2 separate regions of the Homo sapiens genome follow, and region 1 is linked to region 2. Evidence: fine-mapped expression QTL. A gene starts in region 2. The other region holds a variant in brackets. All regions are shown on one strand. Distances are between the middles of the regions.

What was found. PIP is the estimated chance that this variant, and not a neighbour inherited with it, causes the effect.
Region 1: its variant is fine-mapped to the expression of MLYCD in fibroblasts (GTEx, PIP 0.94).

Annotation. Positions count from the first base shown.
Region 1 is chr16:83,936,429-83,939,444 of GRCh38, reverse strand. No RefSeq gene overlaps it. Among named protein-coding and RNA genes, the nearest start is that of OSGIN1, 15 kb to the left of the region's middle. The variant C/T (reference allele first, on the strand shown) is at 1,808.
Region 2 is chr16:83,897,418-83,900,160 of GRCh38, reverse strand. It overlaps MLYCD (malonyl-CoA decarboxylase), which reads right to left and starts at 1,046. Exons shown (of 5, transcript NM_012213.3): 1 at 489-1,046. The coding sequence starts at 1,016. RefSeq lists silencers at 377-546, 847-1,276.

The DNA of each region.
Region 1 (3,016 bases), 39 kb before region 2:
CATATCTGGTGCCCTCTTTGCAAACACCTGGCCTTTCATTCACTGCAAACCCTGGTCCACGCACGCCACCTAGATCCACGAGGAGGAGGCCCGGCCCTTCCTCCATGCCTGCTGGGGTGATAACACAGCCAGCCACTTTGGCTTTGTCAGAGGAGGGGAGTATTACAGTTTAGTCTACATGCAGCAGTGAATTCTGAAAGTGGCGTGCCAGGACAGCAGCACCTGGGGATTTTGAAATCCAAGTTCGTGGGCACCCTTCATCCTCCCGACTCACAGAATCAGAAACACTGGTCTGACTCTGGGGCGCAGCAATCGTTTTTCTTTTCTTCGAGACGGAGTTTTGCTCTTGTTGCCCAGGCTGGAGTGCAATGGCACAATCTCGGCTCACCACAACCTCCACCTCCTGGGTTCAAGTGATTCTCCTGCCTCAGCCTCCCAAGTAGCTGGGATTACAGGCATGGACGACCACGCCCAGCTAATTTTGTACTTTTAGTAGAGATGGGGTTTCTCCCTGTTGATCAAGCTGGTCTCGAACTCCCGACCTCAGGTGATCCACCCGCCTCGGCCTCCCAAAGTGCTGGGATTACAGGCCTGAGCCACCGTGCCCGGCTGCAATCATGTTCTTAACCTCCCCCCTACCCAGGGGTTCTGATGTATGCTCAAGTGTGAGAGCTTCTGACTCCTGGCCTAGGAATGTGTCAGAGATGAATCAATCAAAATGGAGCATCGTTTTCTTTGAGTAGATGTTATCACTATTCCAAAAAATTAAAAAGAGGTTCTAGTACATGGGGCTGACGTGGTCTATTACATAAGCAGGGCACCAGAGCCTCCTTGATGGATCATCCAGCTACCAGGTGGTCGCCTGGCTCAGTGCTGGCATGCAGGTCTGCCTCACGCAGAGGAACATGTTGACTGCACGTGTCATGTCTCCCTGAGAGCAGGTGTGGGCAGGCTGATCATTTTCTACTGGCTTCCCCCATCCATTTTCCACCTCCTCTGTCCTGCTCTGAGCTCCAGGAGGCTGAGCCCCAGGCTCTGCACCCTTACGCGCTTTGGCCAGCTGGCTTCTGGTTGCTTTTGATCAATGGGTGGCTGTGACAGAGTCCAGAGGGTGAGAGGAGTGGGTGGTCAGGACAGTGCTGTGTTGACAAATGTTTAACAACCAGTCTTGGGGCCGGGCGTGGTGGCTCACGCCTGTAATCCCAGCACTCTGGGAGGCTGAGGTGGGCGGATCACGAGGTCAGGAGTTTGAGACCAGCCTGGTCAACACGGTGAAACCCTGCCTCTGCTAAAAATACAAAAATTAGCCAGGTGTGGTGGCAGGCACCTGTAATCCCAGCTACTCAGGAGGCTGAGGCAGGAGAATCACTTGAATGTGAGAGGTGGAGGTTGCAGTGAGCCGAGATCATGCCATTGCACTCCAGCCTGGGTGACAGAGCGAGACTCCATGTCAAGAAAAAACAACCACCACCAACCACCAGCCTTGGGGGGCACTGTGGAAAGCCCTGTTTTGCAGTCCACCAATATCTGTGGCGTGAACACTCCCACCATGATCAATGTCACGTTACCAGTGTAATACTTCTGAACAGTGGAGTTGGAAAGAGATGTGCAGCTTTGCACTCTGCAGCACTACTGCTCCCTGGAACACACTTTGGGAACCATGGTTAGCAGCTGGCATAAATGCCGACTGTCACCCTTAAACTCCTGGAGACCAGGGACTTAAGGAGTTAGGGATAGTGGCTGGGGCTCAGAGGACTAGGAGGCCATGGGACAGCAGCATCTCCATCTTTTGGTTCTGGCTACCCAT[C/T]GTAATCACCTGAGACCATCTCCAGAGATGATAATCCTGGATTTTTTAAATTCTCAAATGATTGCATTGTGTAGGCTGGGGAGAACCACTGCCTTAGAGCTAGGATCAGTGGGAGAGGCAAGAGGATGATGATCTTTCTATATTGCAATCTTGGGTCACATTAATAAGGGCATAGTCTACAGAATGTGGGAGGTGATGGTCCTGCTTGATTTGTCATTGATCAATGAAACCACGTTCTGAGCCCCACAGCTTAATGGAAACACCAAGTTGGAAAATGTTCAGAAAAGAGAAACCAGTAAAATGAGGAGACTCAAAACTTGGTCTTGAGGGGCTCAAACTAGGCCTGTGCTCCACAGAACTCCACAGATAGCGGCCATTCTGGGAAGCATGGGAGCCAGTTCAGGGCATGCCATCTGCCACACCGGCCCTAAGCTCTGTCAGTTGAGGACTCACCTTTGAAGCCACTCTGGTGCTTCTGTCTTCCCACTGAGGAGCAGGAGGGATTTCCTGAGGGTGGAAATGGCAGATGCTGGGTGGGGAGAGCCCAAGATGAGGGGGACCTAGGGGCAGCGCAACAAGGATTCACTTGGGTGACGACGACGATCAGTGATTCTCCAGGGTCATACGGGAAGACCAGCTAATCTCAGGCACGATCCCATGAGCTCATGAATATTTAAGAAGGAGGATGGAAAGGAGAAGGTCAGATGACAGCACCGGCCATGCTGGTAGCTGTGCCCAAGAACGCACACCCTGTGCCGGAGGTCAGGTCTGCCAAAGCTGGGACCGCGCTGTCCTCATTCTCTGTTTCATCCCTGGCCCAGACGGCACTCAGCGCATGCTCAGTACAGTTGCATTCAATGAATGAGTGAGCAGGAAGGCGAGACGGGGTCCTGATGCGGGGGGAAGATGGGCCACCAGGGCTGGCCTTTGTGAAGAGGGGGCTTTTCCACTGAGGCCCGAGGAGTGGGTGGGGAGCCGGCCACGGGAAGAGCACTCCAGGCAGAAAGAAGAGCACAGGCAGAGGCCTGGGGGCTGGCAGGGCCCTGTGGGTCTGAGGTCAGCAGTAGGACCCGAGGGTGTGGAGCTCTGGGGGTGAAGATGGCAATAGCGGAGAGGGGGACAGAGGGTTGACCCCACAGGGCCGAGAGGCAGTGGAGTCAGGAACCAGCCTCAGGGGCTGCTTCCCGGCTGTGTGGCTTGGGCCAGTGA
Region 2 (2,743 bases):
TGAGTCCTATTTACCTTTGTGCATTTCACAGGACTTCTCAGGACAATGTCTCACACATAGCGGGTGCCCAGTGAACTTCTGAAACACCATCCAGGGTCTCAGAAGGCTGCCTGATGCTCTAGTTCAGGTATACCATATAGATGAAACACTTCTCAGCTACAATAATTTCAAAAGACTGTAGAGCACACACTAATCAGGTACGAGAGGTGACAGCTACCTTAAAGACCACCAAGTGCTGAGTATTTAGTAAACACTATACAAGTGAGGACTTCAAGGACAGACTGGAGGAAGGCGGGGGTGTGCTCTGACGAGGCCAGGACTCAGACAGCGTGGGAAGGGGACACAGTTGGCAGGCGGTAACTGCGGGCGAAGTGAGCGTGCTATCGGGCAGGGAAGGCGGGGTGTGTGGGACTTGGAGGGGGCAAGTGAGGACTACTCGAGGAGGGCGGCCAGTCCGCGCTGCCGGGGGATCGACGGCGGCCCCTTACCCGGACGTCCGGCCCCTCCACCAGCTTGAGGGCCTGCGCCTCCAGCAGGTCGGCCCGCAGCTGCACCAGGAAGCGCACGCCGCCGTCCAGCTTGCTGATGTGGTGGAAGAGGCCGCGATAGCGCGGCACCAGCGCGTAGCGCAGCCGGTCCTCGGCCTGCAGCAGCACCGCCGCCTCCCGCTGCTGCTGGCGCAGATGGAGCACGCCGGCGCTCTGCTCCGCCACCTGGCCGTGGTCCACGCCGAAGCCCCGCGCCAGGCGGCCCAGCAGTTCGGCCCGCTGGGCCGTCTCGGCCAGCCCACCGTAGAAGCTCACGAAGTCCGCGCACTGACCCTCGGCGGGCGCCGGTGTCTTCTCGCGCAGCTCGTAGGCCGGCGTCGGCGGCACCGCGCGGCGCAGCAGCTCGTCCATGGCCCGCTCCAGGGCGCCGGCCGCCTGCCCGCTCGCCAGCCGGGGCCCGGGCGGCCGCGGGGGCAACCGCAGCGGGAGGAGACGCCTGGCCGTCAAGCCTGGCCCGAAGCCTCGCATGGTGCCCCACAACAGCTGCCGAGGGGGAGCGCCGCCGCCGCTGCCGCGCTTCCGGCTTCCGGCGCGCGCCGGCCCCATTGGCCGAGGCCGCGAGCCCGGCTGGGGACGCGGCCAATAGGAGGGCGGGGCGGTGGGGGCGAGGCGGCGGGGGCGGAGCGGCTCTGGCGGCGGCCGGAGGCCAAGTGTGGCTAAAGGTTACTGCCCCGCGGCTGGGCTGCCTCGGGGCCTGCTCCCGCGCGGCTGGCGGCTTGTACTCCGGTCCTAACACCTGACCGCCTAAAGGCACCGGCCCAGCCCCTCCTCTCTTTCCCGACTGCACTGCACAAGTGCCGCCTCCTCTCTAGATCCGAGCGCCTCCAGCCTCCCGGTGCATCAGAGTCACCTGGGAACTCCTGCACCGGAGGATTCCTGGGCTCCGAAATCAGAATCCTAGAGATTCAGATTCAGTGTGTCTGGGAGGAGCCAAGGAATATGCTTGCTTAAGAGGTGTTTGTGGCAATCCTCTGGCATGGTAGGTAGCCTTTGTTTGACCCCTGCCTAGGCACTCACCATTCGCGTCAGTGTCTTACACACATGACGCTCAGAGCCACAGAGGTTGGAGGGGTGTGTGAGTGTGTGTGGAGAGAGAGAGAATATGTCTATATGTATGGATGTATGTACACATACGCACGCATATACACATACATATGTATGTAAAAGAGACATGGAGACAGAGAGACTGATGGAAAGCCATACCCTTGAGCAAATGCCAGAATGAGACAAAGAGTTTTCTTTGAAATAGTTTTCAGATAATTGCAGTTATCAAGGCATATTTATTTTGTCCTCTAGAAAGATAGGCCTGAACTCTAGTTCCCCCTCCTTCCCCAATCCATTACAATCTGTAGAAGAGAATGTCACATACCAGCCATGTCTCCCACATGCAAAATTGCAGGAGGCATTAGGAACACAGTGGGATTTTGTTCCACTCTGATGGAAATATGGCATCTTTGGTTGGAGGGTGAGGGAGCCATGTACTTGGTTGACTATGTCTAGGTGCTAGGATTTCTATAGGTAGAACCCTTTGGTGCAGGTCTTGCAGTATAAAAGACACCTGGAGGTAGTTCTGTATGAGGACAGCCTTTGCTGGGTGTGTCTCATCTTATGGGGCACGAAGAAAGTACGTTTGGCTCATTCTGCCAAGACACAGACACACAAAACATTCTGAAAGCCTAGTGGTGGCTTTTGAGGACACCTCTCCATTCCTCTTTTCTAAGAAGTGGTGAAACCATATTGCCAGCTGGCTAAGGGAGTTGGTGGGGTCCAAACTCTGGTGTTTGTCTCTTTGCCTTGTCGAGTGAGCTTTTGTCTGTCCTAGGATACTCCTGCCTTGCTTTAGGAATCTTGTCTTGAAAGCTTGACTTTGCTTAAGCATTTGCTAAGTGTAGTACTCCCACAACCCTGTTCTTTCTCATCTTTCCCGGTGCCTTCCTTTTTATGTAATTTCTGGCTTCTGTTTTTTTTTTCTCTGTGTTTATACTTTTTTCTCTAGGCGTCAACAGCCATCCTCTGCTTTTTCCCACTCATGTCCTTATTTCAAAAGACTGCCCCAATCCAAAAATGAAATTAAAGAAACAATTCTATTTACAACAACATCTGAAGGGATAAAAGAAACATGTTTAACCAAGGAAGTGTGAGACTGGTAGATGGAAAACCACAGAACAGTATTGAAGGAAATTAAAGAAGACCTA